Linked DNA regions of Homo sapiens: region 2 is linked to region 1. Evidence: fine-mapped QTL for protein levels in blood plasma. A gene starts in region 1. The other region holds a variant in brackets. All regions are shown on one strand. Distances are between the middles of the regions.

Region 1 (5,371 bases):
ACATGACTAGAAAACATTAAATGATCCCTAAAATTATTTTTTCTTAGACAGGGTCCTGCTGTGTAGCCCAGGCTGGAGTGCAGTGGCCTGATCAGGGCTCACTGCAGCCTGAAATTCCTGGGGTCAGTGATCCTCCTGCCTCAGCCTCCCAAGTAGCTGGGATGATAGGTGTGTGCCACCATGTCCAGTTAATTTTTTAATTTTTTTTTTTTTTTAGAGATGGGTTCTTGCTATGTTGCCCAGGCTGATCTTGAACTCCTGTGCTTGAGCTGTCCTCCCACATCAGCCTCCCAAAACAGTGCTGGGATTACAGGTGTGAGCCCCCATGCCTGGTTCTAAAATTATCACTGAGCGTTTTGTAACTCTTTGACTTTTCTCTCAAGGCCAAACCACCAGTGATTTTTCAATAATTTTTAGTAACAATATTCTTTTTCCAAGTGAAATAATCTTCAGAATGCCCATAAATAAAACACCGACATAGAAGGATGAATTCCTTATGATGTTCCAATCTTCTCTGCTTGGCAGAATATTCTGCTCTTTGTGGAACTCTGAAATGATTTGGCAGAGCCCTCTGTTCACTGGGAACAGGTTGAGGACCATGGTGTAAATGGATTTAGGTGCCGATACAGAATATGACTCTCTCTAGCACACGATGTAAGAGGACATGTTGCCACAGTAAGAAATGGAATGCTACCTGCTGCCCACTGACAGGGAAATGCTTAAATAGACACAGGGCACCCACCGCTGCCTGTGTTAGCAACAGCAGCAGCTGGCGTCTAGCAAGGGCTTCCTGGAGCCATGTGCTGTCCCCAGCCTTTGCAGGCCCCACCTCGGACCCTTCTCCCAACGACACTGTGCCGTAAGCACCATTATCAACCCCCTGTTACAGACGACAAAACCAAGGCTGGGGGAAGTTAAGAAAGTCACAGAGGGGACAGCTGGGCGTGGTGGCTCACGCCTGCAATCCCAGCACTTTGGGAGGCTGAGGCGGGCAGATCACCTGAGGCTGGGAGTTCAAGACCACCCTGAGCAACATGGAGAATCCCTGTATCTACTAAAAATACAAAATTAGCCGGATGTGGTGGCGCATGCCTGTAATTCCAGCTACTCGGGAGGCTGAGGCAGGAGAATTGCTTGAACCTGGGAGGTGGGGGTTGCGGTGAGCTGGAGATCGCACCACTGCGCTCCAGCCTGGGCAACAAGACAGAAATTAGTCTCAAAAAATAAAGGAAAGTCACAGAGGGGCAACAGCCATAGAGCAGTGGGGCCAAGATTCCAATCTAGGCAGGCTAGCGCTCTTGACGGTCGTACTAAGAATAAAAAAGGGGGGTGGGTGCAGTGGCTCACGCCTGTAATCCCAGCACTTTAGGAGGCCGAGGCAGGTAGACCACCTGAGGTCGGGAGTTTGAGACCAGCCTGGCCAACATGGCGAAATCCTATCTCTACTAAAAATACAGAAATTAGTTGGGCGTGGTGGCACACGCCTGTAGTCCCAGCTACTTGGGAGGCTGAGTCAAGAGGATCGCTTGAACCCAGGAGGCAGAGGCTGCAGTGAGCCGAGATCGCACCACTGCACTCCAGTCCACAGGTGTGGACCCCAACAGGAGGAATGAGTGTAGCTCACTCAGAGTCTGGGGTGGGCCAGGCTTTCTACACGCATCGTGTCATCCTTCCATGGCCCTGGAGAGAAAGTCTGGCCACCCCCATCTCGAGATAAGGACACAGAGGCTTGGGGGTGAAGACCTGCCGAGGCTCCACCTCAGCAAGCGTCAGTCGGACTGCATGCCTGGGGTCTGGCTCCTAAGCCCATGCTCTTTCAATGGCCCAAACATGGAATGCATGGAAGATTTCAGTTAGAAGAGAACTTGGCAGCTGCCAAAGCAGGCTCTCATTCTACGGAGGAAGCACCTGAGACCCAGAAAGAGGAAGGGCCTCGTTCAAGGTCACAAGGCACTGACCATGAAGCCAGGAGGGGCTGGCACGGGGCAGTTTCTTGGCAGAGCTGGCTGAGTGGTTTATTTGTTACAGGTTTGCTTGAAAGCGTTCTCTGCCGAAGAGTTTAGGAGCGATCGTGACTGGTTAGTGCAGCCCATTCCGCCGGGTCTGGATGGTGAGTCGTGCCAGTGTGTCCCGTGCGAACACGGACTACCCGCCTGCTCCCAGCATCTTGCCCTCCCCAGGACCCCTGAAACGGAGGCTAAATGATTCACCCAAGGTCACCAAATACAAGAGAAACGGAGTGTGGCCAGGCGCGGTGGCTCACGCCTGTAATCCTAGCACTTTGGGAGGCCAAGGTGGGTGGATCACCTGAGGTCAGGAGTTCGAGACCAGCCTGGCCAACATGGTGAAACCCCATCTCTACCAAAATACAAAAAATTAGCTGGGTGCAGTGGCGGGTGCCTGTAGTCCCAGTTACTTTGGAGGCTGAGGCAGGAGAATCACTTGAACCTGGAGGGCAGAGGTTGCAGTGAGCCGAGATCATGCCATTGCACTCTAGCCTGGGCAAAAGAGCAAAACTTCATCAAAAAAAGAAAAAAGAGGGCCGGGCGCCGTGGCTGATGCCTGCAATCCCAGCACTTTGGGAGGCTGAGACAGGCGGATCGCGAGGTTAGGAGTTCGAGACCAACCTGGCTAACACAGTGAAACCCTGTCTCTACTAAAAATACGAAAAATTAGCCAGGAGTGGTGGCATGCACCTATAGTCCCAGCTACTCAGGAAGCTGAGGCAGGAGAATCGCTTGAACCCGGGAAGTGGAGGTTGTGGTGAGCTGAGATCACGCCACTGTACTCCAGCCTGGGCCACAGAGCGAGACGCCATCTTAAAAAAAAAAAAAAAAAAACGGAGTGGAAATCTGAACCCATCTGGCTCGGGACGGTCTCTCCTCTCTCCTCTCGAAAGACCCCATCAGCTAAGACAAGGATCCAGTCGCATCTTAGGAAATTTGAGGCTCTACTTACAAGTGTTATTGCTGGTTTGCCATGCACAGGAACGCTGAGAACACCATCGCCCTGGCCTCATCGAACGACTCCAGAGAGGGGCCCACATCTGCTCAACCAAGAAGGAGAAAGCTGAGGTCTTCCAAGTGTTCCTCCCCAACATCTTGGGTCTGTTCCCACTGACTCCAGTCTGAAGAGGGTGATGTTCCCTGCTGTCTGTTCTCACTTTGATCAGGACCACTGTGGACTGGCGTGTACCCACCTCTTTTTGTAGAAACTCATCCCAACCCCTGAGCCTAATGGTTAAAGTTCAACCCATGCCTTTCCCAACAGGGTGGGTCCACAGGGATTAGTGGCCTCTGCTGGGGACAGGCCACTCAGGTCACTGGGCTTTGATCTGGCAAACAGGAGCACAAGTCTGCCAGGGAGCTAGAAAAACTGTACGGTGGGGCTGCGTGAGCACCAGGGGATTACGCGGGAGGCGGGGGCGAGTGGATGAGAGCAGAGTCCCTGTTTCTTTCATGGGGTTGACCGTGTGGTTTGGGGCTCCGGGACACTCAATACCAGGCACAAAGCCATGGTGTGCATGTGAGGAGGGACTGGCAGGCAGGCTCAGAAGTACAGGAATGGGACTGGCCAAAGCGCTGCTGGGTAGACAGGCCAGGGGAGCAGGGAGCTTCTGTCCACCCACCAGGGCTCCTGAAGTCATGGAGTCCTTGCTTGCCTTAAAATAGGTGCGATTTGATTCATTCATCCTCCCCGGAAGCAAGATGCCCTGTGGCTTCGGACACTTCCAGGTCATGCCTGCTGTCTTGGCATAAACATTAACAGGGCCACCTTTCTTTCTTTCCTTTTCTTTTTTTTTTTAGACAGAGTTTCACTTCTGTTGCCCAGGCTAGAGTGCAATGGCGTGATCTCGGCTCACTGCTACCTCTGCCTCCCAGGTTCAAGCAATTCTCCTGCCTCAGCCTCCTGAGTAGCTGGGATTACAGGCGCCCACCACCATGCCCAGCTAATTTTTTGTATTTTTAGTAGAGATGGGGTTTCACCACGTTGGCCAGGCTGGTGTTGAACTCCTGACCTCAGGTGATCTGCCTGCCTCGGCCTCCCAAAGTGCTGGGATTACAAGTGTGAGCCACTACGCCCAGCCTCTTTTCTTCGTTTCTTTTCTTTTCTTTCTTTCTTTTTTTGAGATGGAGTCTCGCTCTGTTGCCCAGGCTGGAGTGCAATGGCGTGATCCTGCCTCACTGCAACCTTTGCCTCCCAGGTTTAAGCAATTCTCCTGTCTCAGCCTCCTGAGTAGCTGGGATTATAGGCACACACCACCACAACGGCCAATTTTTTGTATTTTTAGTAGAGACGGGGTTTCACTGTGTTCCCCAAGCTGGTCTCGAACTCCTGAGCTCAGGCAATCCACCCACCTCGGCCTCCTAAAGTGCTAGGATTACAGGCATGAGCCACTGCGTCCAGCCTCTTTTCTTTTCTTTCTTTCTTTCTTTCTTTCTTTCTTTCTTTTTTTTTTTTTTTTTGAGGTGAGGTCTTGCTCTGTCACCCAAGGTGGAGTGCGGTGGTGCCATCATGGCTCACTGCAGTCTCAATCACCCAGGCTCAAGTGATCCTCCCTCCTCAGCCTCCCAAGTAGCTGGGACTATAGGTGCATGCCATTATGTCCAGCTAATTTTAAAAATTATTTGTAGAGGCAGGTTCTCGCCATGTTGCCCAGGCTGGTCTTGAACTCCTGGGCTCAAGCAATCCTCCCAGAGTGGCCTCCCAAAGTGCTCGGATTACAGGCATGAGCCACTGCCCCTGGCCTGGTACCTCCCTTCATGCCCAGGGTCCACATGGGTATGTTAGCTGGTCACTCTAGCCAGGCAGCTGGTGATATTTGCAGACGCCAACCCACAAAGAACCTTCCTTTGGGTCCTTTGAGCGGCACAGCAGTTTATTCACCCAGACACCTTTTACCTGTGAAATGGAACCCATGGGATTGGGATGCACCAGTTTGTGACTTCTTGTTGTTGTTTAAACTTACAATCTTTTAGGGGGCAGGGCTATCATAACTTTTCATAGAATCCTGGAATCTTAGATCTAGAAAACCCTACAGAACACAGGTGTTGAAATGCGAGTCCACTTGTAGGCTCCTGAAAGCCCAAGAATCCCACTGAAATCCCCCACACAATGGATAGGGTCTGCGGCTTTCGGCCACTGCTCTGGTGGGCCCAAGAGTTTGCTTGCATTTGTTTTGAGCAACAAAAACCAAGTCTGGATGATATGTTCTCTCCTTCCCACACAGTCATGGTGGAAATGCACCCACTCTTGGGAAGTCTGATTCATTGTCATTCATTCATTGACCCACTCACTCATTCATTGACTCACTCACTCACTCATTGACTCACTCACTCATTCACTCACTCACTCATTCATTCACTCACTC
Region 2 (5,371 bases), 43 kb before region 1:
TAAGTCGCGCTGCGACTGCTGAGAAACGTCTGCCGGGCGGGGGCGGGGCATAGGCAGCACGTCTGTGGCTCTGAACTGCCTTGGACAGACAGAATTGCTACAGATTCTTAAGATTTCCAGAAAAAAATGATAGTATAACTTTTATTTATTTTTTATTTTATTTTTTTGAGGCAGAGTGTCACTCTGTCACCCAGGTTGGAGTGCAGTGGTGCCATCTCAGCTCACTGCAACCTCCGCCTTCCAGGTTCAAGTGATTCTCCTACCTCAGCCTCCCAAGTAGCTGGGATTACAGGCAAACGCCACCATGCCTGGCTAATTTTTGTATTTTTATTTATTTATTTATTTGAGATGGAGTTTTGCTCTTGTTGTCCAGGCTGGAGTGCAGTGGCGTGATCTCAGCTCACTGCAGCCTCTGCCTCCCGGCTTCAAGTTATTCTCTTGCCCCAGCCTCCCAAGTAGCTGATATTACAGGCATGCACCACCACGCCTGGCTAATTTTGTAGATTTAGTAGAGACGGGGTTTCACCATGTTGGTCAGGCTGGTCTCGAACTCCTGGCCTCAAGTGATCTGGCTGCCTTGGCCTCTTTAAGTCCTAAAATTATGGGCATGAGCCATGACGCCCAGCCCAAGAGTATAACTTTAAAAAGTGTATACAAATATTATTAATTAATTTTCGAAAAAAAAAAAAGCAATGAAACTATTTAGATAAGAAAAAGGAGGCCGGGCTCGGTGGCTTATGCCTGGAATCCCAGCGCTTTGGGAGGCCAAGGTGGGCAGATCACCTGAGGTCAAGAGTTCAAGACCAGCCTGGCCAACATGGTGAAACTCCGTCTCTACTAAAAATACAAAAATTAGCCAGGCGTGGTGATGGGTGCCTGTAATCCCAGCTATTTGGGAGGCTGAGGCAGGAGAATCGCTTGAACCCAGGAGGTGGAGGTTGTAGTGAGCCGAGATCGCACCACTGCACTCCAGCCTGGGCGATAGAACGAGACTCTGTCTCAAAAAAAAAAAAGGAAAGAAAAGAAAAAGGAAGAAAACAAAAACCATGCAGACCCATGACCCTGGGACAACTCCCATGGATGCCTCGTGTGTCTGTGTGTGATAGATTAGGGCGTTGCTCAGGACATGCTTGCTGTGATCACTGGAACCGCTGTCCAATCTCAACAAGCTCCTACTTCAGTTGGAATTTTCTTCTTGTGTAAGAATGCCCCAAATGCATGAAAGAATATATATAACTCCACAACGCTCTCATGCAGCATCTTAGTGACGCTGCCAAGCAAGAGGGACGCCTTCCATGAAGCGCCATCGTGCCAGTTACGGGCACGGCTCACCTGGCTTGGGGCCACTTCAACGGGCTCCTTCTGGATGATCCAGGTGACCGACTCGGTCAGCGGCGGGGTGGTGAGCGAGCCCGCGTAGGTCCAGTAATCCCAGCAGGTGGGCAGCAGAGTGGAGGGGTCGAAGGGGCGCATGGCCGCCCGCGCGTCCTGAGAGACCGAGAAGCACAGGACGTGTCAGTCCTCAGGGGAGACTAGGAGCTTCCATCTTGTCTCAGCACGTGAGGCCTTCATGGTGCTTGGAAGGAAGTGCTTTCCCCCAGATAAGGCCATGAGGCCACTGCTGTCACACTTGCAAGCAGTGATGAGAAAATGTGACCCTTCTATACAGAGCAAGGATTCCTGCCAACTTACATTGGTGGGAATTACGTTACATTACACCAGCTTACGTTGGTGCTCACATTTTTCCTTTTGAAGTCATTTCTTGGGGCGCAGTAGCTCACCCCTGTAATCTCAGCACTTTGGGAGGCCGAGGCGGGTGCATCACTTGAGGTCAGGAGTTCGAGACCAGCCTGGTCAACGTGGTGAAACCCTGTCTCTACTAAAAATACAAAAATTATCCAGATGTGGTGGTGGGCGCCTGTAGTCCCAGCTACTCAGGAGGCTGAGGCAGGAGAATCGCTTGAGCCCAGGAGGCAGAGGTTGCAGTGAGCCGAGATCATGCCACTGCACTCCAGCCTGGGCAACAGAGTGAGACTCTGTCTCAAATAATAATAATAATAATAATAATAATAATAATAATAATAATAATAAATTAATTAATAATAAAAATAAAAATAAAGCCATTTCTTTTAGCATACCTTGGCTGCAAAAAATATTACTTTTTATTGTGATAAAATATACATAACATAAAATTTACCATCTTAACCTTTTTTTTTTTTTTTTCGAGATGGAGTTTTGCTCTTGTTGCCCAGGCTGGAGTGCAATGGTGTGATCTTGGCTCACCGCAACCTCTGCCTCCCAGGTTCAAGCGATTCTCCTGCCTCAGCCTCCAGCGCCTGCCACCACGCCCAGCTAATTTTTGTATTTTTAGTAGAGACAGGGTCTCACCATGTTAGCCAGGCTGGTCTTGAACTCCTGACCTCGGATGATCCACCCGCCTTGGCCTCCCAAAGTGCTGGGGTGAGCCACTGTGCCCGGCCTATGGGCTCCTTTTTAAGGAGGGAGTCATGGTGGCCAAGAAGGATGTCCACATGCCTAAGCACCCGGAGATGGCAGACAAGAATGTGCCCAACCTTCATGTCACGAAGGCCATGCAGTCTCTCAAGCCCCGAGGCTGCCTGAAGGAACAGTTTGCCTAGAGACATTTCTTTCTTTCTTCCTTTCTTTCTTTCTTTCTTTCTTTTTTTTTTCAGACAGAGTCTCCAGGCTGGAGTGCAGTGGTGCGATCTCAGCTCACTGCAGCCTCTGCTTCCTGGGTTCCAGCGATCCTCCTGCCTCAGCCTCCCTAGTAGCTGGGACTACATCTTCACGCCATCGCGACCAGCTAATTTTTTATATTTTTAGTAGAGACGGGGTTTCACCATATTAGTCAGGATGGTCTCGATCTCCTGACCTCGTGATCTGCCCACCTCGGCCTCCCAAAGTGTTGGGATTACAGGCGTGAGCCACCACGCCCGGCTTGCCTGGAGACATTTCTACTGCTACCTTACCAATGAGGGCATCCAGTATCTCCGTGATTACCTTCATCTGTCCCTGGAAACTGTGCCTGCCACCCTATGCTGCAGCCGTCCAGGGACTGGCAGGCCTCGGCCTAAAGGTCTGGAGGGTGGGCGACCTGCAAGACTCACAAGAGGGGAAGCTGACAGACATACCTACAGACGGAGTGCTGTGCCCCTGGTGCCGACAAGATAGCCGAGGCTCGGGCTGGGTCAGCAACC[G/A]AATTCCAGTTTAAAGGCAGATTTGGTCGTGGACATGGCCAGCTACCTCAGTAAAATCAGAGAGGATTATTTTGCATTGAATACACTCACAGCCAAAAAACAAAAAGAGTCAGGGTCTTACTTTGTCACCCAGGCAGGAGTGCAATGATGCCATCATAGCTCACTGCAGGCTCTAATTCCTGGGCTCAAGCGATCCCCCCGCCTCAGTTTCCCAAGTAGCTAGGACACCACACCAGGGTTTAAAATTAATTGTTTGTAGCCAGGGGGTCTTGCCATCTTGCCCAAGCTGTTCTCCAACTCCTGGGCTCAAGCGATCCTCCTGCCTTGGCTTCTCAAAATATTGGGATTACAGGCATAAGCCACTGTGCCCAGCCAGCTCTTTTGGATATATACCCAGAAGTGTGTGATTGCTGAATCATAGGGTAGTTCTATTTATAACTTTTTATTTTTTTTATTTTTTTTGAGGCAGAGTCTCACTCTGTCTTCCAGGCTGGAGTGCCGTGGCATGATCTCAGCTCACGGTGGTTGGGCCTGGCCGCAACACAGCCCTCATCAGCGTCCCATGCCAACCAAGCATAGCTCTGCACCTGCCCCTGGCCAGCACTGTGGGACAAGAGTCCAGTCCAAAGTGACAGAGTCCCTGTCTGCAAGGAAGATGGCCTCCCTGCTCAGCCACATCACATCACCTTGACTTTGCTGGGCCCTGGCCTTCCAAGGTGGAAGCTGGCAACCCAGATGCCTTGGGCTTGTCTCCTAACATCAAGCAGTGAGGGTCAGGGTCAAGAGAGGTGGCTGAGCTACCAGAAGGAAGCCCGGGAGTGTCCACACTGGCAGACACATGCATCAGTTCTATGCACGCATGTTCACGTTTATAATTATCCAGTTAATTAAAAAAAAAAAAACAGCATTATAGGCTGGGCACAGTGGCTCATGCCTGTAATCGCAGCATTTTGGGAGGCCAAGGCAGGCAGATCACCTGAAGTCAGGAGTTCAAGACCAGCCTGACCAACATGGCGAAACCCCATCTCTACTAAAAATACAAAAATTAGCCAGGCATGGTGGCAGGTGCCTGTCATCGCAGCTGCTCGGGAGACTGAGACACAGGAACTGCTTTGGCACAGGATGCAGAGGTTGCAGTGAGCCGAGATGGCACCATTGCACTCCAGCCTGGGCAACAGAGAGAGAGACTCTGTCTCAAACAACAGCAGCAGCAGCAAAACCCACAGCATTATTGTGATAGAATTCACATACCATGCAACTCTCCCATCTAAAGTGTACAGCCTGGTTGGGCGCAATGGATCATGTCTGTAATCCCAGCACTTTGGGAGGCCGATGTGGGAGGACTGCTTGAGGCCAGGAGTTTGAGACCAGCCTAAGCAACATAACGAGACCCTGACTCTACAAAAAATACAAAAACTAGCCAGGTGCAGTGGTGCACGCCTGTGGTCCCAGGTAGTTGGGAGGCTGAGGTGGGAGGATGGCTTGAGCCCCGGAGGTTGAGGCTGCAGTGAGCTGTGATCATACCACTGCACTCTAGCCTCGGTGACGGAGTGAGATCCTTTCTTAAAATAAGTAAATAGGCTGGGCACGGTGGCTCACGCCTGTAATCCCAGCACTTTGGGAGGCCGAGGCGGATGGATCACCTGAGGTCAGGAGTTCGAGACCAGCCTGACCAACATGGCGAAACCATGTCTCTACTAAAAATACAAAATTAGCCAGGCGTGGTGGCGCATGCCTGTAATCCCAGCTACTCGGGAGGCTGAGGCAGGAGAATCACTTAAACCCGGGAGGCAGAGGTTGCAGTGAGCTGAGCTCATGCCATTGCACTCCAGCCTGGGCAACAAGAGTGAAACTCCATCTCAAAAAGAAAACAAAAAACAAAAAACAAAAAAAGTAAATAAAAATTGAAGGGTACAGTTCTATGGTTTTGGGTATATTCACAGTTGTGCAGCCATCCCAAGTCAATTTTAGAACTTCCACCTCAAGGGGGAAGCTTGGTACTTTTTAGCTATGGTCCCCACCCCCGCCCTGCTGCTTCTGTCTCTGTGGGTTTCATAGGAACTGAGTCATGTAACATGTGGAACATTTGTGTCTTGTGTCTCTCACTCAGCACGGCGCTTTTGAGGCTCACCCACACCGCAGCATGAGTTAGA

Which allele goes with the higher level. Positions count from the first base shown, and alleles are read on the strand shown. Strength reflects both the effect of a copy and how common the allele is.
In carriers of allele A in region 2, the plasma level of the protein whose gene starts at base 3,179 in region 1 tends to be higher than with G alone (moderate association).

Evidence for each region. PIP is the posterior inclusion probability: the model's chance that the variant is causal. Protein levels are from antibody-based Olink assays in UK Biobank. Linkage for the fine-mapping came from a reference panel and not from the study's own genotypes, which makes the PIPs less certain.
Region 2: its variant is fine-mapped to the plasma level of the CA5A protein (UK Biobank, PIP above 0.99).

Annotation. Positions count from the first base shown.
Region 1 is chr16:87,933,351-87,938,721 of GRCh38, forward strand. CA5A (carbonic anhydrase 5A) reads right to left here and starts at 3,179. Exons shown (of 7, transcript NM_001739.2): 1 at 2,959-3,179. The coding sequence starts at 3,100.
Region 2 is chr16:87,890,467-87,895,837 of GRCh38, forward strand. It overlaps CA5A (carbonic anhydrase 5A), which reads right to left. Exons shown (of 7, transcript NM_001739.2): 6 at 1,333-1,488. Among named protein-coding and RNA genes, the nearest start is that of SLC7A5, 24 kb to the left of the region's middle. The variant G/A (reference allele first, on the strand shown) is at 3,219.